Linked DNA regions of Homo sapiens. The protein of the gene in region 3 interacts with the protein of the main gene of each other region in a biochemical or structural test. Each region holds a gene or a part of one and is shown on either strand. Other genes may lie near its edges.

Region 1 (3,500 bases), on a different chromosome or scaffold from region 3:
GTTCGTTTTCTTTAATAACTTAATTGTTTTAATATTTTCACAGAAGACACAGGTTTTACAAAATTAAAATCCGCTTCGGCTTGTATGTTGTAAATAACCAATAGAAGATAATCAAAATGTTTATTGAACGAATGGATACTGTTCTGTCATCAAATACTCTGTTTTTCTGAAAATTACATAACATGACAATTAAAACTCAAAACTCAATTACGGCATCAAGATCCTAAGTTTTGACTTTTATCTATTTTCGGTTTTCTAGAACAGTAATTCTTTAGATCAGTAATTTCAGCCTTAGTTTTTCTATTCTTAAGAATGCCATGAAATCTCAGCATAAAATAAGTTTTTGTTTAAAGTTTATGAAGATTCACAGCACCTGAAGGATGAATATGTTTTGGTTCAAAAGGCAAATGACAATATGGTGTTGGAGTTTCAGAAATGCAGAGAATCATTGGGTCATGCTATTTTATTTGCTTTATGTAATGGCTTGCTATTTTAGTGGTTGATATTGTGGCTTTGCATTGTTGTAGAGTTGAAGAAGAGATCTCATCTGTGCCAAATTTTTATATCACAGGAACTTTCAGTCATGTTATAAAGGTGATGTTTGTGGTGCACGCTTTGTTGTGTGAATATTTACAGGAAGTTTTAGTAAGATCTTCCATTGTTTAGAACCCTACATGGCTTAGGTCACCTTCAGTTCACATTTAAACAGTTTTATAATATAAGTCCTATAGCGAGGCACAACTGCTTTTCTTTAAAGGAAATAATCTGTTTCTATTAAAGTGTCTTGTCTTATTGGTAGTTCGTGTATGGCTATGGTAGGGTATGTATTATCTCTTTTCTTCCTCTCAGCTGCTCCAGTGCCACAATTAGGCTGAGTATTGCTCAGCTGCAGCTGCTGGGTGATTACTAACCATCCAGCTCCTGTCTAAACTCAGAGGCAGATTTAGCAAAAGGAGCTATAGTAACAGTAGAGGGTGAAAGAGAAGAGCCAGTGCTGCCGCCAATATCGTTTTCACATGTCTGTATGCCAAGGAATCGTTGGCTGCAGCAGCACTACTGTTGTCTTGGAACTAGCAGACTTGATGGCAATATATCCTGGTCTGCGTTGGGTTTACCTTTAAGATCTGAAAGCCCACTCCAGGAAAGACAGAGAATCCTGTAATTTTAGAGTATAGAATAATGTACTGTTGAGGTACTAATGGACTGAGTTACAAGCCTCTGTGCCTCAACTCCTTTTCCCCCCCAAATCTAGGGTAGCAATGCCCTTCAGTTTCTCTTGTTCAAATGTACAGTAAGCTGTGAGACTGCAGGTTCCTTGAAGCATTATACTTCATTTCACTTTAAGCTGTGATTCTTAGAATTGCTTCTTTTATTGTTGTTTAGGGGAGGGGAGTAGAATTGCTGGCATATAGGTTCTTTGGACTCTACTTTCTCCTAGGAAGTGGAAGGCCTTCAAGAGGGATAACTTCTAGAATTAGCTATACATTGCATATCCGTGGTGGCTGCCTGAATTTTGCTAGTAGGAACTCTGCATTCTTTTCCTTTTGTTCTTTCTTTATCCCTGGCGTTTGAGAAGATGGACATCAACAGTTGCAAATACGTTATCAGCTATATATGGCAATCCCCAGACTGGAAGATGCCATAGGCAAATTTTGCTGCTTCTAAAATGCTGCTCAGCTTATAAATATGCCAAGCAAATAGCAGCAGTCGCATCTTTTGTGTTTTTGTGTTTTGCTTTGTTTTTGAGACAGGATCTTGCTCTGTTGCCCAGACTGGAGTGCAGTGGTGCAGTCACAGCTCACCGCAGCCTTGACCTCTGGGGCCCAAGGGATCCTCCCACTTTAGCCTCCTGAGTAGCTCGGACCACAGGTGTGCACCACCATGCCTGGCTAATTTTTTTTTTTTTTTTTTGATGAAGTATCACTCTACTGCCCAGGCTGGTGTGCAATGGCACGATCTTGGCTCACTGCAACCTCTGCCTCCCAGGTTCAAGTGATTCTCCTGCCTCAGCCTCCCGAGTAGCTGGGATTGCAAGCGTGCACCACCACGCCCGGCTAATTTTTGTACTTTTAGTAGAGACAGGGTTTCACCATGTTGGCCAGACTGGAGCATGCCTGGCTAATTTTTGAATTTTTTGGAGAGATGGGGTCTCACCGTGTTGTCCAGGCTGGTCTCAAATTCTTAGGCTCCAGCAGTCCACCTGCCTGGGCCTCCCGAAATGCTGGGATTACAGGCCACCACACCCAGCCACAGCAGCGTCTTGTCCTTACTTTTACCACTACTATCTACTGAAAATCTGGAGATATTCCTTTGACTTATCTTGTCTTTGGAATTTGGTAGTTTGGGGTTTGGCATTTGGGATGGAGATTAGAGAGGATTGAGAAAAGTAGTGCTCAAACTTGTATAACCAGAGGAAGGATGAGGTACAGTTAGACCATGCATTTGAACAGTAAGAAGTACACATCATTATGGCATATACTTAGCAAGAGATTGGTGTTATGACCTCTTTGTGCTCCCACAAAACACTTATGTCAAAACACACCTCTCCTTGCACTGTAATTATTTCTTTCCATGCTTGTCTGTTATTCTTGACCTAGTATTCACTGTGTCAAGGAACTGTTTTATAGCAATCTTTGAGAACAGCCCTTAGCACAATAAATACTAAATAAATTCTGAATTGTATGTAGGGATGTGGTTCTGGGCAGATTTATATGAATTACAGCTATGGACTTTTCGCAAACAAAACAAATCTTTTGAGTACACCTCTACTAAAATGTTATAAAACTAGCTTAATACTTTTTCATAGCTCGAAGTTAATTCTTTAGATTTTTGCTCTCAAGGTTTTGTTCTAGAAGGTGATTTTACAAAATAGCTTAAGCAGTCCTTCAAATATGAATTTAAAGGTCATTTTGATATTTCTAATATGAACTGAAAATTCATTGTAGTTGAAGTTAAACTAGTCTCTAGTAAGGTTTATTTTAAATAAATACGTTGTACTATTTTAGTGAAGAAAGTCCAAGTTATGCTGAAGAAAAATCCTAGATTTTTAAAAAATGCATTTGGTATCTCATCACAGTAGTGACAATCAGTATTACAATTATGACTTGTTCATATATACCTAGGACAAAAAGAAAAAGAAGTCCTGATTTTCTTGCAGTAATGTGTGTGAAGGAATGCATAATTCATAGGTGTACTTTTGCTGGGTTATTGGGGGTGAGGACGGAACAGGAAGTGCTAGGAGGAAAAGTACTGACCCCTGAAACTTCAAGATTGTCTGGTTTTCAGCCTCTATTCCCAGCAAAATGTGGATTCTAGGTTTTCTTCAACTGACTTAAGAGGATTTTCACTTCTCTAATTTTTTAATGTAACTTTTCAGTTTCTTAGCATTAAGTAGAAATTGGGGTGAGGTGAGGAAGTTGGTGGTGGTTGTGTATAAGTTAATACTTCACATTGTTTCCTGGCGAATGTATTGACTTCTAACTTTTGTTCTGATGTGATTA
Region 2 (3,438 bases), on a different chromosome or scaffold from region 3:
CTGGGGACGCAGGGAGGCGTCGGAGTTGGGGTGGCCACACAGCTCACGCTCTCCCTCCCAGTGCGGGACACGCAGGCTGTGCGGCACTACAAGATCTGGCGGCGTGCCGGGGGCCGGCTGCACCTGAACGAGGCGGTGTCCTTCCTCAGCCTGCCCGAGCTTGTGAACTACCACAGGGCCCAGAGCCTGTCCCACGGCCTGCGGCTGGCCGCGCCCTGCCGGAAGGTAGCCGCTCCGCCCTGACTTGGTCACGCGGGGTCAGGCTGGGGGGTCACAGGCTGGCATTTCCTACTGGGAGAGGTTGGCCGGGCAGCATGGGAGGGGTCCTGACTCACTGACCTGGGGCCCACTGGAGGGAAGCCCATGGTTCTGCAGAGCACAGGTGTTTGCCTGAGTTGGGGGTGGGGCCAGGAGACCATCCCCGGGCCTGGCCACTCTCGGAGAGGCCAGCGGCACTCTGCAGGGTCCTGGCTCCGGTCTGTCTGGGTGTTTCATGCTGGGCTGGGGGCAGCCCCCAGGAGAGTCCACCCTTGTGTCAGACACTCAGAAACCCCCAACCCAGGCTGATCGTGGCCCTAAATCTGAGGCTAAATCCAGGCTCCCTGTGCTGGCTTCAGACTGGCACTTCCTGAAGGATGAGCCCCTGCCCTGTGTCCCCGACTCTTCCTCCAGCACGAGCCTGAGCCCCTGCCCCATTGGGATGACTGGGAGAGGCCGAGGGAGGAGTTCACGCTCTGCAGGAAGCTGGGGTCCGGCTACTTTGGGGAGGTCTTCGAGGGGCTCTGGAAAGACCGGGTCCAGGTGGCCATTAAGGTGATTTCTCGAGGTGAGTGGGCCCCGATCAGGGCTCTGTGTGGCCCCGTGCCTGCCCTGGGCCACCCTCCCACCCCGCCAACAGGGACCTCTGGCCTCGAGCCCCAAGCAGCACCCACAGCGTCCATGCGAGAGTGGTTCCCTTTCAATTGCACCTATGTTTTTACCTAAATACATTTATTATAAAAGAAAATTTTAGGCCGGGCACGGTGGCTCACATCTGTAATCCCCACACTTTGGGAAGCCAAGGTGGGCGGATCACGAGGTCAGGAGTTTGAGACCAGCCTGGCCAACATGGGGAAACCACGTCTCTACTAAAAATACAAAAATTAGCCGAGTGTGGAGGCATGTGCCTGTAGTCCCAGCTACTCGGGAGGCTGAGGCAGGAGAATCGCTTCAACCCAGGAGGCGGAGATTGCAGTGAGCTGAGATCGCGCCATTGCACTCCAGCCTGGGCGACAGAGCAAGACCCCGTCTTGGGAAAAAAAAAAAAGAAAGAAAGAAAGAAAATTTAAAATCCTTGACGTAATGGAAAGCCATTAAAATAGATCACTGGAAATGGGTAAAACTTCCCTGGAACCCGTCTGGGCCCCAGCAGAGGTCTGGCCTCTATGTCAGAGGTCTGGGCCGGGCACAGGAAGAAATCGGGTGGCCACCACAGCCCCGTGGGTACGCCAGGCTGGGGCCCTGTGGGGCCGGCTGCATCTGCCATTTCGTGGCCTCGGGAGCCAGGTGCCCTGTCGGGGGCAGGAGGTCTGTGTGTCCTGCACAGCTGCTGGGTGTGATGGCTGCTGTGTGTGGGGGCAGGGCCTTGGCCTCTTCCTTGGGGCCTGGGGGGTCAGGGGCTGCATCCACCGAGGCCACCCGTCCCCGCAGACAACCTCCTGCACCAGCAGATGCTGCAGTCGGAGATCCAGGCCATGAAGAAGCTGCGGCACAAACACATCCTGGCGCTGTACGCCGTGGTGTCCGTGGGGGACCCCGTGTACATCATCACGGAGCTCATGGCCAAGGGCAGCCTGCTGGAGCTGCTCCGCGGTGAGTGGCATGGGCCGGGGCTCTTGCTGGAGGCAGCGGGGGCACGTGAGGAAATAAAGTGCACACCCCCCCCCCACGTCTACACACACACACACGTAGACACACAGACACACAGACACACACATGCACACACAGACACAGACACAGACACACAGAGACACACACGCACAGACACACATGCACACACACATGCACACAGACATACACATGCACACACAGACACACACACAAGACACATCACATGACACACACAGACATACACATAGACACAGACACACACACAGAGACACACAAAACAGATCACACGGACACACACAGACACACACACAGATCACACGGACACACACAGACACACACACACACAGACACACACTGATCCAGACACACACACAGACACACACAGATCACATTGGCTCAAAGACTTCATCCTCTCTAAGTTCCATTATTTCCTTTCTCACCAAAACCAAAGACAATCGCTGCCAGGGAATGGAGATGCCCGTGCGTGAAGGCGCAGTTTGGATTCCGATGTTAGAATGGGAGGGAACGTTGTGGTATAGGAAAAATGCCGTGTGTGTCTGAGGAGAGCTACACTGAGGCACCACGCACGTTTGCGCTCTGAGCGAAAGGCTCCGTACCCCTCGCCCTCACACAAAGGGCTTGATCATCTCAGACAGTCCCCACGCCCTTCAGGGTCCTCCGGGAGGGAATGTGGGGTAAAACAGGCACCACCAGGCCGCAAGCCGCTGACAGCCATTCTCCTGTTCGAGTTCCCACTGCCTACATCACGCAGTCATGAGCCTCTTCGCTGGTCCTTCTGCGTCCAGCTCCTCCCGCGTCATCACAAACTTCCAGAAGGGAAATCGCTGGGCTAGACCACTAGGAACTGCTCCTTGGTTCTTTTTTTTTTTTTTGAGACGGAGTCTCACTCTGTCGCCCAGGCTGGAGTGCAATGGCGCAGTCTCGGCTCACTGTAACCTCCACCTCCTGGGTTCAAATGATTCTCCTGCCTCAGCCACCTGAGTAGCTGAGATTACAGGCACCTGTCACCACGCCCAGCTAATTATATATATATATATATATATATATATTTTTTTTTTTTTTTTTTGAGACGGAGTCTGGCTCTGTCGCCCAGGCTGGAGTGCAGTGGCGTGATCTCGGCTCACTGCAAGCTCCGCCTCCCGGGTTCACGCCATTCTCCTGCCTCAGCCTCCCGAGTAGCTGGGACTACAGGCGCCCGCCACCACGCCCGGCTAATTTTTTGTATTTTTAGTAGAGATGGGGTTTCACCGTGTTAGCCAGGATGGTCTCGATCTCCTGACCTCGTGATCCATCCGCCTCAGCCTCTCAAAGTGCTGGGATTACAGGCGTGAGCCACCACGCCCAGCTTGCTCCTTGGTTCGTGATAAACAGTTGCCTTCCAGAAGGGCGGTAGCTGGCCTGCAGTTCCAATTTTCAATCAGGCCAGCTGCCCTTTGCCCCGGCCCCTCCTCTGAGCCCGCAGAGCTTGGAGGCAGATGAGACATGGCCCAGCCTCCCCAACCCTTCCCCACCTCAGCTGGCTCAGCTGACCCCAGGCTCTGCTCCACT
Region 3 (3,500 bases):
TAGGCTCAAAAAGATTGATCAGAAAAAGTATATTAGCAGTAGGGGAAAAGAAGTAGAGGTCAGGATCTGCCACCAAACAGTAAGGGTTAGGGTTAGGATTACCCTCACAAGTAGACTGTTGAATGAAGCATTACTCTGTTAACTGTAAGGTCAAATTTGTTTTCTATTCCAAGCACTGAAACAGGATTGTGAAGAGCACTGTCATTTACAGTTCTTCTCATAGGAGTAAAGGTTTTTAATTAAGGATATTTACAATTCATCAGCAATTTTAATTGTCAGAAAACCAGGAAGTATGTGTCTATTAGTTCATGGTATAGTATAGCATCTGAAATTAGGCTTTTTAACAAACAAGCATTCAGTCTGAAATTCTAAATTCTCTAAGGCATGTCAGAGTCAAAGTTATTTTTCTTCGTCTATATATTTCACAGCTGCACCTCTCTAAATATTTATTTTAAAAACTGTTAGGCCAGTACGGTGGCTCACATCTGTAATCCCAGCACTTTGGGAGGCCGAGGCGAGTGGATCATCTGAAGTCAGGAGTTCGAGACCAGCCCAGCCAACATGGTGAAACCCCATCTCTACTAAAAATAGGGAAAAAAATTAGCCGGGCATAGTGGCGCATGCCTGTAGTTCCAGCTACTCGGAAGGCTGAGGCAGGAGAATCGCTTGAACCCGGGAAGCAGAGGTTCCAGTGAGCAGAGATTGCACCACTGCGCTCCAACCTGGGTGACAGAGCGAGACTTTGTCTCAAAAAATAATAATTAATAAATAAAAACTGTTAAGGGTATAGATTTGTGGAACGTGTTTGAGGTAGGGTGTCTTTATACTTCAAGCCAATGGTTTTCAAAGTATGGTCCCTGGACCAGCAATATCAGAATTACCTGGGAACTTGTTGGAAATGCAAATTCCTAACACAAATCCCAGACTGGCTTTGAAGCCCAGCAATCTAGTTTAATAAGCCCTCTTCTAGGTGATTGTGATGCATGAAGAAGTTTGAGAACCCCCGCCTTAAAATTATAGAAGATGGGAATGTTATGTAATATTCTATTACAGACTATTCTCTGATATTTAGAATGTTCCACTGATTTTAGGGAGTATATATATATACACGTATATATATATACTATATATACTTTTTTTTTTTTTTTTTTTTGAGACAGAGTCTCGCTCTGTCGCCCAGGCTGGAGTGCAGTGGCGCGATCTCGGCTCACTGCAAGCTCTGCCTCCTGGGTTCATGCCATTCTCCTGCCCCAGCCTCCCTAGTAGCTGGGACTACAGGTGCCCACCGCCACGCCCGGCTAAATTTTTTTTGTATTTTTAGTAGAGATGGGGTTTCACCGTGTTAGCCAGGATGGTCTCGATTTCCAGACCTTGTGATCCTCCTGCCTCAGCCTCCCAAAGTGCTGGGATTACAAGCGTGAGCCACCGCACCTGGCCTATTTTTTTTTTTTTTAACTACTCTCAGTGGATCATATAAGCTTTCAGTTGCTACTCATCCTTGGGCACTCTGCCCTCATCTCTATTAGAACTCCTGTTATAGTACTTTACTTCATTGCCACCTCTATAGTCTGGGAACTCCAGTATATAAACAGTGAAGACAAGAGACCAGTCTGACTCGCTCTATTGTATCTCCTGTGCTTTGCAAGACAGATGTCTGGCTCTTATTAAGTCCTCCATAGTGGTTAATGATTGTACCTATTATAGCCCTCCCTTCATCTGCCTCTCCATACTATAGGAAGCACTCAAACACTTGCAGTCACTCAATGAATGAAGTTCCTTAATGGTAGGAAATCTTTTTGTATGCCAAGTTTCTATCTAATGAAACTGTCTTAACCCGCGAATTGAAAGTACTTTTAGGTGATGATGGATATGTCTGTGCCCATGATGGTGGTGATGGTTTCATGGGTGTATACTTATCTCCACACTCATCATTGTATACATTAATTATGTATAACTTTTTACATATCAGTTATACTTCAATAAAATGTTTTTTTAAAAAGTACCTGGTGGCTGGGCGCGGTGGCTCACGCCTGTAATCCCAGCACTTTGGGAGGCTGAGGCAGGCGGATCACCTGAGGTCGGGAGTTCGAGACCAGCCTGACCAACATGGAGAAAACCCTTCTCTACTAAAGATACAAAATTAGCCGGGCATGGTGGCACACACCTGTAATCCCAGCTACTTGGGAGGCTGAGGCAGAAGAATTGCTTGAACCCAGGAGGCAGAGGTTGCAGTGAGCCGAGATCATGCCATTGCACTCCAACCTGGACAAAAAGAGCGAAACTCCATTTCAAAAAAGAAAAAAAAGTACCTTGTGCATTTTGTATCATTTAGGCATTGGCTGAATTTGGGCTAGATAACGGTAACGATATATTAAGTACTTTATGAAAAATTGGCCTTAATTAGGCATATCTACGTATTTTATTAACTTAGGTCACACGACTAGTGAGTAGCAGAGTAAGAATAAGGTCTTTCAGACTCTTAAGGACTAGTATCTAGAGTACTAATGTCACCGTGGAACTTTAATGGAACTATCCATTGTATATTTAGATTATTTACTTTTGTTTTTTTCAAGGTAAGATTATACTTTGTCTTGATGCAGATTTTGATTTTTTTGTTTGTTTCTTTATTCTCCTTTCCCCCATCTCACCCAATTAATTTTGTTAAATTGATTTAAGAAACATTTAAATGTCTCTGTTGTCATGGCTTCAGGTGAGGGTGGAAGAGTACACTTCTTTTATTAGAAGCAGGCTTTGGGCTTTCTAGTCAACTTCATATAGCTTTAGTGCTTTCAGCTAGTTTCTTTCTGAAATTGGCACATTTGTGTGAACTATTTGGTTTCACTATATGGTATTCCATGTTATTGCTTTAAGCAGACTTCAAAATTTGCATTTATTTACCAGGGCAAAAATAAATTGTTTTTCCTATTCAGAAATTGAGAAGATTCAGAAAGGAGACTCAAAAAAGGATGATGAGGAGAATTACTTGGATTTATTTTCTCATAAGAACATGAAACTGAAAGAGCGAGTGCTGATACCTGTCAAGCAGTATCCCAAGGTAAGGCAAAAAGTGCTTTGGATCTTTGAGTTATCTTTATAGTTATGAGAGAGTCATGGGCTATAATAAAGACTCCTGGGGATTGTGATGCTTTAGAAACTTAAGCCTGTGAAGCTTCTCTTTCATGCTTGTAGTACCTGTTACTGAGAGTTGAAATATCTAAGTTCTTAACTAATAACATAGCTATAGCCAGGAAGGAAATATAATCATCTTTTTATTATCAAAAAGTTTCTTTCTCAAATGATTGCTCAGGCTACAAGTTCAAAGAAAAAAAAATTAAAACCTGAAGAGTTGCTCTTTGTCAAAAGACTAACCTGAAATCTAAATAAAAGGAAATATAATATGAATCCTCAATTGGTTGAAGTTAATTTTATTTTCTTACTAAAAGTTTACTTTTAAGTAAATGCTTTTTTTCTTCCTTTTTTTTTTTTTAGGAAAGCATTTA
Region 4 (3,500 bases), on a different chromosome or scaffold from region 3:
TGTCAGGTATTGTTCTAAGTGCTCAATTTATTTAATTCTCACAGTAACCCTATGAAGTGAACTATTATCTCTACTTTTTGGTGAAGAAATTGAAACACAGAGATACGATAACTTTTAAGTTCATTTAGCCAGCAAGGTGGAAAACTACGAATATGTGGTAAAAAATAATATTGTAGACTATTGGAGAAAGTGGCTTGTTCAATGTATGGTGCTAGGACTATTGGTTATCCATTTTTTAAAAATGTTTTCTGCCTCATAGGCTAAAAAAAATCAAAGGAAATCTAAATGACAAAGAGCAATAAAAATTCTAAAATAGAAGAAAATGTAGAATACTACTTAAAAATATGTATGTACCTAGATTGAAAAGAATCCTCCGTGCATGATACTAAAGAAGTAATAAAGGCGGGTGGGTCACTTGAGGTCAGGAGTTCGAGGCCAGCCTGGCCAACATGGTGAAACCCCGTCTCTACTAAAAATACAAAAATTAGCCGGGCATGGTGGCGCGTGCCTATAATCCCAGCTACTTGGGAAGCTAAGGAAGGAGAATTGCTTGAACCTGGAAGGCGGAGGTTGCATTGAGCTGAGATCGGGGCCACTGCACTACAGCCTGGGCGACAAAGTGAGCTTCCGTCTCAAAAACAAAAAGTAATGAAGGAAAAAACGTGGCCGGGCGCGGTGTAATCCCAGCACTTTGTGAGGCCAGGAGGGGCGGATCACGACGTCAGGAGTTCAAGACCAGCCTGACCAACATGGTGAAACCCCGTCTCTACTAAAAATACAAAAAAAAAAAAAAAAAAATAGCCGGGCCTGGTGGCGAGCACCTGTAATCCCCCCTAATGGGAAGGCTGAGGCAGGAGAAACGCTTGAACCCGGGAGTCAGAGGTTGCATTGAGCCAAGATCGCACCACTGCACTCCATCCTGGGCGACAGAGCGAGACGCTGTCTCAAATAAATAAATAAAGGAAAAAAACGTTTTTTATATGTGTGATAAACGTCTGCGTTCGCAGTCAGAATTTTGTTTACTGGTGTATTTGATTTAAGATTATTAGAAAGTTGAAAAACAAGAATTAGGGTGGTTCTCTGCGTCACCAAAGAATTGTTTAAATGTGTAAGAAAGTGGTATGAATCATTGTTAAGAAACGATTTCATTGGTTGAATCACAGAAAAGTGGCTGAAGGAAGTTTCAGTGGCTTCTGTGTTTTCAAGCTGTTTTCCTTTGGAGGAAGCAATAAAATTTAATTTAAGATTGTGCTATTGTATATGCTTATTAGATTTTGCTGAATACTTAAATGTTTTTGTTAAGTCTCGGGAATAGTAGTATTGCCCGCTGTGGCTATCTGAAATTATAATGTAAGTATGAAAATGATTTATGTCATTTTTTACTGTTACACTGATTTACATGATACCCAGGAATTGATTTATTGTATCAAGTGGAGCACAGTGGGCTTTTTTTTTTTTAATTAAGTTCTGGGATCCATGTGCAGAATGTGCACATTTGTTACATAGGTATACGTGTGCCATGGTGGTTTGCTGCACCTATGAACCCATCATCTAAGTTTTAAGCCCCACATGCATTAGGTATTTTTCCTAAATGCTTTCCCTCCCTTTCCCCCCACCACCAACCCGGGTAACAGGCCCCAGGTCCTGGTGTGTGATGTTCCCCTCCCTGTGTCCATGTGTTCTCATTGTTCAACTCCCACTTATGAGTGAGAACATGTGGTGTTTGGTTTTCTGTTCTGGTGTTAGTTTGCTGAGGATGATAGCTTCCAGCTTCGTCCGTGTCCCTGCAAAGGACATGAACTCATTCTTTTTTATGGCTGCATAGTATACCATGGTGTATATATGTACCACATTTTCTTTATCCAATCTGTCATTGGTGGGCATTTGGGTTGGTTCCATGTCTTTGCTATTGTAAATAGTGCTGCAGTAAACATATGTGTGCATGTGTCTTTATAGGAGAATGATTTATATTCCTTTGAGTATATACCCAGTAATGGGATTACTGGGTCAAATGGTATTTCTGGTTCTAGGTCCTTGAGGAATTGCCATACTATCTTCCACAATGGTTGAACTAATTTACATTCCCACCAACAGTGTAAAAGCGTTCCTATTTCTCCACAGCCTCGGCAGCATCTGTTGTTTCCTGACTTTCTAATAATCACCATTCTGACGGGTGTAAGATGGTATCTCATTGTGGTTTTGATTTGCATTTCTCTAATGATCGGTGATGATGAGCATTTTTTCATATGTTTGTTGGCCGCATAAATACCTCCTTTTTTTTGGCAGCATAAATGTCTTCTTTTGAGAAGTGTCTGTTCATATTCTTTGCCCAGTTTTTGATACGGATATTTGTTTTCTTGTAAATTAGTTTCACTTCCATGTGGATTCTGGATATTAGACCTTTGTCAGATCAGTAGATGGCAAAAGTTTTTCTCCCATTCTGTAGGTTGCCTGTTCACTCTGATAGTTTCTTTTGCTGTGCAGAAGCTCTTTAGTTTAATTAGATCCCATTTGTCAATTTTAGCTTTTGTTGCAATTGCTTTTGGTGTTTTCATCATGAAGTCTTTGCCCATGCCTATGTCCTGAATGGTATTGCCTAGGTTTTCTTTTAGGGTTTTTATGGTTTTGGGTTTTACATTGAAGTCTTTAATCCATCTTGAGTTAATTTGTGTATACAGTGGGCTTTTCTTGATATCTTAACGTTTTTGAAACCTTAAGAGCTGCAGAAAATGGCCAAGCTAATGAACAAAAATTAATGACAAGAGTCAGTCATTACATATAGGGATTGTTTCTTGAGTGAGTGATGCAGTGTTTTAATTATGATAGTTACTGATCAATGCATACTTGCTTCATACTGTTTTAAAAGTGAAAAACTCACTGTAGTTTGTGAGAAGTCACTGAAGTTTGGCTGCCAACTTTTAATGATCCTCACTGTAGCAATAATTTTTGTGTGTGTTTGGCATTTTAGACCATCATGGTTAAAGCTTTAATTTATATAGTTGGCTGATAATCCTAACTACATTTTACAACTCTTACATTTGTTTCAGGACAGCTTCATAAGATAGTTATGTTTCAAATTGTGGTGTTCTTCCCCCCCAGGTTATATATTGGCACAAATTACATTATATTATTAGGAAAGACACCAATTTGCCAGACTCAAGCATGTAATCCCTGCACTTTGGGAGGCTGAGGCGGGCATATCACCTGAGGGCGGGACTTCAAGACCAGCACAACCAACACGGCCGAAACCCCGTCTCTACTAAAAATACAAAAATTAGCCGGGTGTGGTAGCACATGCCTAAAATCCCAGCTACTTGGGAGGCTGAGGCAGGAGAATCATTTGAACCCAGGAAGCAGAGTTTGCAGTTGAGCCAAGGTTGCAGTGAGTCGAGATAGCACCACTGCACTCCTGCCTGGGCAACAGAGTGAGAGTCTGTCTCAAAAAAAAAAAAGGAAAGACACCAATAAATAATGAGGTGGAAACCAATCTGTGGCTTCGA
Region 5 (3,500 bases), on a different chromosome or scaffold from region 3:
TTCTTCAGATTCTCATCAAGATGATGAAATAAGCTCAATGGAACAAAGCACAGAAGACAGCATGCAAGATGATACAAAACCTAAACCAAAAAAAACAAAAAAGAAGACTAAAGCAGGTTTGCTATACAAATTAAATGAAAAATTGTGTATGTTGGTAGAAATAACTTGATTCTAGGAATTTTAGCCCTTTAAAACTGATGGGTATACTTGAAAATAATTCAATATAGGATATTTGGTACTTGTTCTTGAATTCATCTAGATTAAAGCACACATGTATTTGTAGCTGTAGGTCTCTGATGAGTTTGTATCACTTGAGTCTTCTCTGATTTTTTTTATTTTTGAGATGGTGTCTTACTCTGTCTCCCAGGCTGGAATGCAGTGGCACGATCTCGGCTCATTGCAACCTCCACCTCCCGGGTTAAAGCGATTCTCCTGCCTCGGCCTCCTGAGTAGCTGGGATTGCAGATGCATGCCACCATACCCGGCTAATTTTTGTATTGTTAGTAGAGACGGGGTTTCACCATGTTGGCCAAGCTGGTCTCGAACTCATGACCTCAAGTGATCCACCTGCCTCAGCCTCCCAAAATGCTGGGGTTACAGGCATGAGCCACCATGCCTGACCTTCTCTGATTCTTGTCATACTTTAAATTCAACTCTAAAATGATACTGACTTTGTAGTTGCTATTGGGTCATAGAGGATTTCTTCTTTAAACCATTGAGTTTACATCCTCTAAATGGTTAGGACTCAGTTGTTGAAAGCTATAAATGGTCAGCAGCCAATAAACATTTCTGATGTTAAGGCTGCATCCTGTCCAACATGGTATCCTCCCAATTCGTCAGCCTAATACCACTTCTTTCCTTTCTCAACTTTTCTCTTTGCCTTGTTGATTTCTGTCTTCTTCTTTTCTTGTTTGTTTTCTCTTATTTTTCTTTACATGTTCTTTTCTACTCATACATCCTTTTTTAGTCTTTCAGTTTCCATTTGATTGGCCAAAAATTGGGATTAAAATGGGCAATTTTAGATTTTATAGTACTTATTCATTAGAAGATGTAAGTGATGATGTTTTGTGGTTTCTATAATTAAAATTTTAAAATCTTTTGTTGAAGCATAATGTGTATATAGATATATATAGAAAAGCACTAAGCAGTATACTTGTTTTATGTGTTTCTATATATATAAAGCACTAAGCAGTATACTCATATACATATTTTTAAAGTTTTTTTCACAAACTGAACATACCTATAAAATCATTACCTAAATTTGGAAACAGAACATCATTAGCACCCAGAAAAATCACCTTCCCGTTAGTTGCCCTGTGGGAGTAACCACTACCTGGACATCTAACAGAGTTTATTTTTGCTTATTTTTATACTTTAATATGAATAGAATGATAAATACTGTGCTCCTTGTGCCTGACTTTTTTTACTCAATGTTAATTTTGTAAGATTTATACTACTGTTGCTTGCATACAGTTGAGCTTATTCATTCTTAATTCTGTTTTTGTATTATTTAGATATCCATTGTGTGAATATACCACAGTTAATTTGCCTATTTTATTGATGGTCATTTGAGTTGTTTCTAGTTTTAGGCAATTATAAGTAAAGCGGTAATTCACATTGCAGTCACGTATTTGGTAAGCACATGCATACCTTTATCTTGGGCATATTGTTAGGAGTAGAATTGCTGTCATAGATTATGTATATTTTTTGCTTTAATAATTACTTCCAGTTTTCCAAAGTTGGTTTACCAGTTGACACTAGCAGTGTTTGAGAGTTCCAGTCACTCCACATCTTTACCAACATGTAATACTGTTTTTTAACGTTTTAGTCATTCTTAGGAGTGACTAAATTTTCCTCATTCTTCAGGAATGTATAGTGATATTCATTTTGGTTTTAATTTTATTTCCATGGTAACTATTGAAGTTGAGTGTTTTCATGTTTATTAACTACTTAGATTTTGACATTTGTAAATATATTCAAGTTGTCTGCATTTTTTAAAACACAGAATTGTCTTTTTCTAATTGATTTGTAGTGATAGGTTTATATACCTCAATATGAGATTATTCTCAGATATAAATACCTACCCACATTTATATCGCAAATGTCGTCCTACTCTGGTTTGATTATTTCTCTCTCATTGGTGTCTTTTGAAAAACAGAAATTTTTGTATTGTCCAGTTTATCCATTTTTTTCCTTTGATGGTAAGTGCTGTGATTTAAGAAATCTTTCCTAAGTTCTGAAGATATTTTTCTAAAAGTTTTATTCTAAAAGTTTTACTGTTTCTGTTTTACTTTCACATTTAGATATGCAGTTCATCAGGAATTGGTTTATGTTTATGATAGGAAGCAGTGATCAAGATATCCATGTGAATATATATTATGATTGACCCAGTACCATTTACTGAAGAGAGTGTCTTTTTCCCTCTGTGTTGCAGTGTCACTTTTCCCATAAATAACATGACTGTGTTACATGTGGATCAGTTTTTGTAGTCTCTATTCTTTTAAATTAGACAGTTTGTACCAACACTACCATGTCTAAATACTGTAGCTTTTTAATAGGTCTTGCTATTTAGTATTATACTCTAGGTTTTTCCTTCTTCATCTGCATTGTCTAGGCTATTCTTTACTTTGCATTTCTGTATGGATTTTAGAAGAGCTTCTCCATTCTCCCTCTTCCTTTTTACCCTCATTCTGTCTTGCAAGCTGTGATTTTGATCTAGACTGGGTGAATCTAAAGAGTCACAGCATAACAACTCTCTAAAGAGACTTGACATTTTTACACAGTATTGATTCTCAGGCTATGAATTTGGTATGCACTTCCATTTATTTGCATCTTATTTAATATATCCCAGCAATATACATTTCAGCAGAATCTCTCCTTAGATTTATTCCTGGGATTTGATGTTTCTTAATGATATTATAAATGGCATTTAAAAAATTTTTGTTTTGTATTTGTTGCTGGTACATATATGTAGAAATGTATTTAAAATTTTTTAACATTGTGTCCATTGATTTGCTAAATTCACTTATTGCAAGAGTTTATTTATTTATTTATTTTTGAGACAGGGTCTTGCCCTGTCACTCAGGCTGGAGTGCAGTGGCGTGATCTCAGCTCACTGCAACTTATACTTCCCAGGTTCAAGCGATCTTCCCACCTCAGTCTTCCAAGTAGCTGGGACTACAGGCATGCACCACCATTCTTGGCTAATTTTTGTAGAGACAAGGTCTCACTACATTTTCCAGGCTAGTCTCAAACTCCTGGGCTCAAGCAGTTCTCCCACCTCAGTCTCCCAGAGTGCTGGGATTACAGATGTGAGCTATCGCGGCCCACAGAGTTTATTCTTACATTGTTTGGATTTTTCTACATATGCAATCATGTAATACGTTAATAACGATAGTTTTATCGCTTCTTTTTCAGTCCTTATGCCTTATCATTTTGCTTGCCTTGATACAAATCAAGATTTAATCTCTTTATTATCAATCTTTTTTTTTTTTTTTTTT
Region 6 (3,500 bases), on a different chromosome or scaffold from region 3:
ACATTTTTTTGGTTTACATTTCTAACTTTTTGTTTTCCCCCCTCCTTCCCTCAAATGTTTTGATGATTCTCCAGAACCAACGAAACGTATGCTTTCCTTCCAAGGGTTAGCTGAGTTGGCACATCGAGAATATCAGGCAGGAGATTTTGAGGCAGCTGAGAGACACTGCATGCAGCTCTGGAGACAAGAGCCAGACAATACTGGTGTGCTTTTATTACTTTCATCTATACACTTCCAGTGTCGAAGGCTGGACAGGTAGGAGATGTTGGGGTACCTGCTCGTGATTGCTGCCTCTGGGTGCTGAGCTTGAAAAATGATACTTAAATATTTGAACTTGAAATTTTTCCAGTACCGGGTTTCAACTGAGCCGCCAACGCACATCTGCTCTCTTGCCCACTTGTGACATGCCCAGCTGCCAGTTTTTCTCCTTCCTTTTGTGGTGGTGGTTATATTATCAGTATGACTAGGGACCTTTTCTAGATTTTTCTATCTGGGTCTGCTGCTTTCTAGACTCTGTTCAGGTAATAAATTATTATCAATGTATATCTGAGCATCCAGTCTCCCTTTCATGAGACCTGTCAGTTTGAGGGACTGAAATGCTCAGAAATGATGGTTATGTATGCTGTGGCAGGAGATGCATACCTGGAGTTTCATTAAGTTGTTATGGTGTGTTGCTTTTAGTTAATCAGTTGAATTAATCAAAAGGGAAGAATTTGTGTTCCTGTCCTTTTAATAATTGTTATTCTGGCATATTTAGACACTTAAAGATGTGCATCATTAAATCTTAAATGGAAAATGAGACTCGTGCACATAGCTTTCCATTTTTTATCTTAATGATCATGATTTCCAATGTGGTGGGTTTTTTTTTTTTTTTTTTTTTTTGAGACGGAGTTTCGCTCTTGTTGCCTAGGCTGGAGTGCAGCGGCGCCATCTCGGCTCACTGCAACTCTGCCTCCTGGGTTCAAGCGATTCTTCTGCCTCAGCCTCCTGAGTAGCTGGGATTACAGGCATGTGCCACCACGCCCAGCTAATTTTTGTATTTTTAGTAGAAACGGGGTTTCTCCATGTTGGTCAGGCTGGTCTCAAACTCCCGACCTCAGGTGATCTGCTCGCATTGGCTTCCCAAAGTGCTGGGATTACAGACATCAGCCACCGCGCCCGGCCAATGTGGTAGTTTTGTAACAAGACTCTAGTTAGAATTTTTTTCTTTTTTTTGAGGTGGAGTTTTGCTCTTGTCACCCAGGCTGGAGTGCAGTGGCGCAATCTCAGCTCACTGCAACCTCCGCCTCCCGGGTTCAAGCGATTCTCCTGCCTCAGCCTCCTGAGTAGTTGAGATTACAGGCGCCTGCCATCATGCGTGGCTAAATTTTTGTATTTTTAGTGGAGACGGGGTTTCACCATATTGGCCAGGCTGGTCTCGAACACCTGACCTCAGGTGATCCTCCCGCCTCAGCCTCCCAAAGTGCTGGGATTACAGGCGTGAGCCACTGCGCCCAGCCAATAATTTTATTTAATAAGAAAAAGCTTTTCATTTTGAAATCTAGAATACCTCCACTTTTGAAAATCTTTGATTTCCCAAATTTTTCTTGCTATGCACTAGTTAAAAGATAAGGTATTATATAATGAGCAATAGCACAGATCTCAAACTGTTTGAGTTGCATATGGGCCATACCTTCTTTTCTGTAACGTGCATACCCATGCATTAACACTTGTCGCCTTTTCCAGATCTGCTCACTTTAGCACTCTGGCAATTAAACAGAACCCCCTTCTGGCAGAAGCTTATTCGAATTTGGGGAATGTGTACAAGGAAAGAGGGCAGTTGCAGGAGGCAATTGAGCATTATCGACATGCATTGCGTCTCAAACCTGATTTCATCGATGGTTATATTAACCTGGCAGCCGCCTTGGTAGCAGCGGGTGACATGGAAGGGGCAGTACAAGCTTACGTCTCTGCTCTTCAGTACAATCCTGTGAGTAAAATTTTAATGGTTACTTTCCCTTCCTAGAAACCCAGAAAGAAACATAGTGTGATATTTCAGACACTAAAGTAGGTTTTCACATGGAATAAAGTCAAAAGTTTAGAAATGCGTATGTACTTAAAATGGTGAAATTGCTTTTAGCTGGTCTGCGTTATGCTAAAATATTTGTTTTATTTAGCAAGTTATATTAAAAAGCATAAAAATTCTTATTGCAAGAAACTACATCAATTTTAAAATAACACGTATAAAGTACAGAGCACATGACTTTTTTCTGTTGTGATTAACTTTGGATAAATTCTGATAAGTGTTTGCAAGTTAATTGATTTTCAAGGAATGGTGGATAATGGGTCTTAATCTGTAAAATCTGTAATATAAAATAGTTTGAAACAAGATGCCACTATATGGAATGATGTGAAAATTAGGCTACAAAATTTCTTCCTCAATATCCTATTCTCTTCTCTTTCAATGTAATTAGAAGTCATAGAATTTAGATGATACTACTTATACTGGGCTTTTGATTAGTTTAAAAATTTTTTTTGTCTAAGTTGCAGATGTGTTCTGGGAACAAGTAAGGCTCAGCTGGCAGACCTTAAATTCATACTGTGTTTAGGATCTCCGAAAGATACAAAAACATAAGACTTTCCCTCAGAACTTATGATGTAGTTAGAGAAAGTAGATGTAAACTTAAGAGGTAAATGATAGTGGGGTTATAGAAATCTAGAAAAAGTTCCCAAGTTACATTGTCAACATTCAGTTTTGTAACCAACCTGGAAATGGCTAATAGTTTATTTTAGCTACCGTTTACTGAAAGTCTGTGTGGTCAGACACTCTACTGACAGCTTTAAATGATTGGTCTTAGTTAATCCTCACAATAATTCTTCAAAATAGATGATATTATTTCTGATTTTTATCAATTAAAAAAAAACCATGGACTCAGGGTTATGTGGCTTTCATGGGGACAAAGCTAGTAATGAAGTATTAATAGATATTAAAACCTGAGTCTGAATATCCTCAAAGCAAATGTTGAAGTGAAAAGAAATAAAAGTGGGATGATGTGCCCAGAGGGCACTCACCCATCAAAGCAGCCCTTGAGCACAGTTAAAAAACCATTGATCATATTTTGCTGTCCCTTATTTTTTGGTTAGGAAACTGAAACTAAATTTAGTAGTTTGTTCAAAGATCCGAAGTCACTTCTCATGATGATATCTATTAACAATTTTTGTAGTTAATTTTGAGAGTTTAAACGTGTCCTTTTTAGAAAATCCATTGCTTTAAAAAACATTTTTTTTTAAGAGATGGAGTCTTGCTATGTTGCCCAGGCTGTACTCATACTCCTGGGCTCAAGCAGTCCTCCTGCCTCAGCCTCCAGAGTAGCTGGGACTATAGGTGTGTGCCACCACACCCAGCTTCTAAATTTATTGGTTTTTGAATGGATACAGTGAATACCTCCAGTTAGCACTCTTGGAGGTAGCAAATGAAACTAATTTCTTGTCTATCTTTTCTGAGACACTCAGTGTATATA
Region 7 (3,500 bases), on a different chromosome or scaffold from region 3:
TACACAGAGGACTGGGGCATCAAAAAACTCTGGAATTGGAATAGCATATTGGGAGTTCATGGAACATTTTCTCACCTGTTGTATTGTTTGAACTTCACAGCAGCTCCATGAATCCATGGAGGGCAGGAGTTACTATCCCTCTCTTACAGAGGAGAAAACCAAGCCCTAAGGGTAAGGTCACATAGCAAGTTCATGGCAGATCCTAGGATTTCAGATTCCTGCTATAGTATTCAGTTTATTCTCCCATTCTGGGGAAAATGATAATAGGATGGACCGTTCTATAGGAACAGAGGGTTATTTTGTTTTGTTTTGTTTTTCTTCCCTCTGGCCACATGTGTTTGACCAGCCTAGACTTCCATCTGTGGACAAGCTGGACTCATTGCCTCAATTTCAAAACCCGTCCTGCACTCATCCTTGCCACAACACCGGTGTCGAGATGCTTGGCCCACCCAGACCTTTCCCACACTCCTACATGGGGGTGAATGTAGCCGCTGATTGGGGGTGGGACACAGAAGAGCCTCACCCTCTTGACTTTCTGGTTTGTGGTGACACTTCCGCCTAAGCTTCTACAGAACATGGGAACCTGGGGCTCCATGCCCCAAATATCCTGAGAAGGGCTTTTCCAGGATTCTCTATGACAACTCAAGAGCATGCATTCATTCATGTGCTCTTTAATTTGTCATACATTTGTTGTGGGCCTTGCTACTGTGTGTTGGGCACACTGAGCTGGATGTGATTACTCCAGCCTCTGACTTGTTCATGGTGGCAGTAGATCTCTAGCGTGGTTTGTGTTCCATCTCACCATACCTACTCTCCTTAAAAAAAAACAAAAAACTAGCTTTCTTGGGCCTCAGTGGCTCATTGAATAAGTGAGAGACGACTTGTGCTTCCCTGGCTTTAGACTCTGGCATTTGCTAACTGTGCCAAGCACTGTGGAGACCAGTAGTGGACATAAGGTTAGGGTAGATACAGCCAGAAAGGAGATAAATAGGCAGACAGATAAAATTCTTATAGGATTTGGTGAGTTCTATGAAGGAAATAAGGCAAGAGGCTGCTCTGTCAGGGTAGGTGAGGGTGTGCTGTGATAACAAATGATGCCCACATATCAATGGCTGGCAACAAGGAAGGTTAATTTCCCCTGTTTGCTATGTGTGCTAACCTACACCACCGTCCCTGGAGAGTGGCCTCAGTGGTTCTGGGTGAGGCCTCTAGTACAGAACCTGAACACCCTGGGCAAACTAGGCTGGAGAGGGATTTGGAGTATGGAGGTTTAGAAGGAATTAATTTCTATGACTTAGGATGCATGTGGTGAGTGTGGCTTTGCTGTTGTGGTAGAGTAGAGTGCTGCCTGTGTGGGTCAAGAGACTGTCTTGGCTGACATCTTTGAAATAGGTATATTTGTGTGGCCCTTGCCTAATTGTCATCTCTGCCATAGCTGCCCCCGCCTTCCCCACCAACCCATGGCCCTACTTGAGCTGCCTGCTGAGCCTACTCTGTTGTGGCCACAGTATCCTCCTGCTGCCCAGAGTTTGAGTTTCTCGCTACTTCTGCCACTCATCACACTTGCTTCCCAGAGCTTTGCTGGGTGTGCTGAAGTCTCCAGAGAAAGTGGGGAATATGGGTGCCTAGAGACTTCTAGGGGGTGTTTTCAGCCCCTAGAGAGTAGAGAAGTGTGAGAAGGGGTTGGTCCCCGAATATTCTGTAGTTTTGGGGAAGAAGCAATGGGGACAGTGGAGTTGGTTGCCTTAAGAGAGGCTATGGTCCCAAGAGATGGGACTTGGAGAGTCTCTACTTGCATTCCTGGCTAAGCCCTTAATATTCTCGCACCCCTCCTTGCAAGACTAGTTCCTTTTGAGGTGGTTCTTGGCTAGCTTTTGAGAGGCTGCAGTGGCTGTGTGCCCAGGCTTAAGTCCTAGCTTTCTCCCCACTCTTTACCTCCTAGGAACCGGGCCCATCCTGGGGGAGGCAGGGAGGAGCTCCTTTTTATAGTCCACATGTAGGCTTTGTGTATAGGCTCTGCTGCTTCCTTCCGGCCCTGGCCCTTCCTGGTGTTGGCCGGTGGCCCTGGCTTCAGCAAGACTCAGGATGCAGAGTAAACGGGGCAGGGCGTTCTCCTACAGAAGACTGGCATCCCTTTTTACTGAGCCCAGGCCTGGCACAGAGGAGGCTGGAGTTAGGAAGCAAGAAAACGAGGTGACCCAGTCCTTGATCCTGAGAAGCTTGTGATCTGGACCATGCAGAAAACCGCTAATGCCCAGGGCTGGCAGGAGACAGCTGTGCCTAAAGTGCTGTAGGCTGGGCCTGAGGGCCAAGATGGAATCGCTTTTCTCCCTGTAGCAGCCCATCCTACCCCCTGGGGTCCCTCCACCTGCCAGCTGGCACACAGGTGTTGGGTAAAGCATCTGTACAAAGGCTGTGAGGGGCCTGGGCGCAAGGCAGCAAGGCTTGGGTACGGAGGAGAGTGGGTGGTCTTACTGATGTTCTGGGCCCTGACAGTGAACAGCTGGCCAAACTGGTGAGGAGTTGGGCCATGGCGAGTTTGGCCACTTGTTTGTGTGTGTTTAGTTCTTCCTGGGCACAGGTGGGGAGTTCACTTTGGGGTTGGCTTCCTGTTTTCTTGGACACCTGGGGATATGGTTGAGTTAAAATGTTCTGAGGGAAATGATTGTTGAGGGCATGGGCTTGGGTCATAGTGTCCTTGGCTTGGCCTTGCCCATGGTAGGAGTCGGGTATTGACCACACTGGGTTCTGGCTGTGTAGGTGTGGATGTGTGGTGGGAGAATTCCAACCCCACCTTGACTTCAGCCTAAGGCCCAGAGAGTGTGGGCCTGAGTTCACAGGGTGACTAACCCTAGGAAGGAGTGAAGGAGAGCTCCAGTTGGCCATAGGTCCCACAGGTTTCTCAGCTTACTTGGGGGCAGGAGGTGAGCTAAGGAATACAACTCCATTCCCTCAGTTGGGAGGTTGGGCAGCGATGGGGGCAGGGGTGATGGTCCTTCTCTGAGGCACTGAAGACCCACTTTATGGTCACCCTATTCTGCCTGATAGTCCACCACCTGTTTGGAGGCAGCTCCCCTCTTCCTGCCCTAGTCACTTCCTCCACCTTCAACAGTAATTGAGTATAATGTGCCTGTGTTAGCTTGTCCATCCTAACTGGGACTGTGGCCTTTTCTTGGGCGTTCTTAGCATATCTACCAAGGAGGTTGGAAAAGGTAACATATGTCACTTTGTTAAGGATTTTGCTGAGGGCCTTTTGAGGCCAGCAGTGAAACACAGAGCATTCCCTCCAGTGAGAACAGAATGTCTGTTGCCAGACTGATCACAAGAGGATGGCCTGGTTCTGGCCTGAGAACTGGTCTACACCGGAAGCATGAAGCTCCATACAATCATGTGTGCTAGTAAAGTTTGGGCAAGCAGCTGTCCTAAGCAGGTAAAACGATAGGTTATTCAACTTCAACTTCAGAGAAAGAAATCCAAGGTAGCCATCTCTCTCAGTAGGG

Evidence for each region.
Region 1: of the proteins of KHDRBS1 (region 3) and YES1, one has a biochemical effect on the other in vitro, tested with the Homo sapiens proteins (2 studies listed by BioGRID, with this or other methods).
Region 2: the proteins of KHDRBS1 (region 3) and PTK6 form a complex in vitro, tested with the Homo sapiens proteins (one study listed by BioGRID).
Region 4: the proteins of KHDRBS1 (region 3) and TJP1 interact in a test that uses a peptide from one of them, tested with the Homo sapiens proteins (one study listed by BioGRID).
Region 5: the proteins of KHDRBS1 (region 3) and AHI1 interact in a test that uses a peptide from one of them, tested with the Homo sapiens proteins (one study listed by BioGRID).
Region 6: the proteins of KHDRBS1 (region 3) and OGT form a complex in vitro, tested with the Homo sapiens proteins (one large-scale study listed by BioGRID).
Region 7: the proteins of KHDRBS1 (region 3) and PLCG1 form a complex in vitro, tested with the Homo sapiens proteins (one study listed by BioGRID).

The regions. Positions count from the first base shown.
Region 1 is NC_000018.10:805,743-809,242, reverse strand, and holds part of YES1 (tyrosine-protein kinase Yes), read left to right. Parts: intron 1-3,500. UniProt on the Homo sapiens protein: Non-receptor protein tyrosine kinase that is involved in the regulation of cell growth and survival, apoptosis, cell-cell adhesion, cytoskeleton remodeling, and differentiation.
Region 2 is NC_000020.11:63,530,939-63,534,376, reverse strand, and holds part of PTK6 (protein-tyrosine kinase 6), read left to right. Parts: intron 1-61; coding exon 62-225; intron 226-672; coding exon 673-826; intron 827-1,689; coding exon 1,690-1,851; intron 1,852-3,438. UniProt on the Homo sapiens protein: Non-receptor tyrosine-protein kinase implicated in the regulation of a variety of signaling pathways that control the differentiation and maintenance of normal epithelia, as well as tumor growth.
Region 3 is NC_000001.11:32,027,368-32,030,867, forward strand, and holds part of KHDRBS1 (KH domain-containing, RNA-binding, signal transduction-associated protein 1), read left to right. Parts: intron 1-2,930; coding exon 2,931-3,055; intron 3,056-3,500. UniProt on the Homo sapiens protein: Recruited and tyrosine phosphorylated by several receptor systems, for example the T-cell, leptin and insulin receptors. Once phosphorylated, functions as an adapter protein in signal transduction cascades by binding to SH2 and SH3 domain-containing proteins.
Region 4 is NC_000015.10:29,815,969-29,819,468, reverse strand, and holds part of TJP1 (tight junction protein 1), read left to right. Parts: intron 1-3,500. UniProt on the Homo sapiens protein: TJP1, TJP2, and TJP3 are closely related scaffolding proteins that link tight junction (TJ) transmembrane proteins such as claudins, junctional adhesion molecules, and occludin to the actin cytoskeleton.
Region 5 is NC_000006.12:135,459,741-135,463,240, reverse strand, and holds part of AHI1 (jouberin), read left to right. Parts: coding exon 1-116; intron 117-3,500. UniProt on the Homo sapiens protein: Involved in vesicle trafficking and required for ciliogenesis, formation of primary non-motile cilium, and recruitment of RAB8A to the basal body of primary cilium.
Region 6 is NC_000023.11:71,536,104-71,539,603, forward strand, and holds part of OGT (UDP-N-acetylglucosamine--peptide N-acetylglucosaminyltransferase 110 kDa subunit), read left to right. Parts: intron 1-74; coding exon 75-255; intron 256-1,725; coding exon 1,726-1,969; intron 1,970-3,500. UniProt on the Homo sapiens protein: Catalyzes the transfer of a single N-acetylglucosamine from UDP-GlcNAc to a serine or threonine residue in cytoplasmic and nuclear proteins resulting in their modification with a beta-linked N-acetylglucosamine (O-GlcNAc).
Region 7 is NC_000020.11:41,144,043-41,147,542, forward strand, and holds part of PLCG1 (1-phosphatidylinositol 4,5-bisphosphate phosphodiesterase gamma-1), read left to right. Parts: intron 1-3,500. UniProt on the Homo sapiens protein: Mediates the production of the second messenger molecules diacylglycerol (DAG) and inositol 1,4,5-trisphosphate (IP3). Plays an important role in the regulation of intracellular signaling cascades.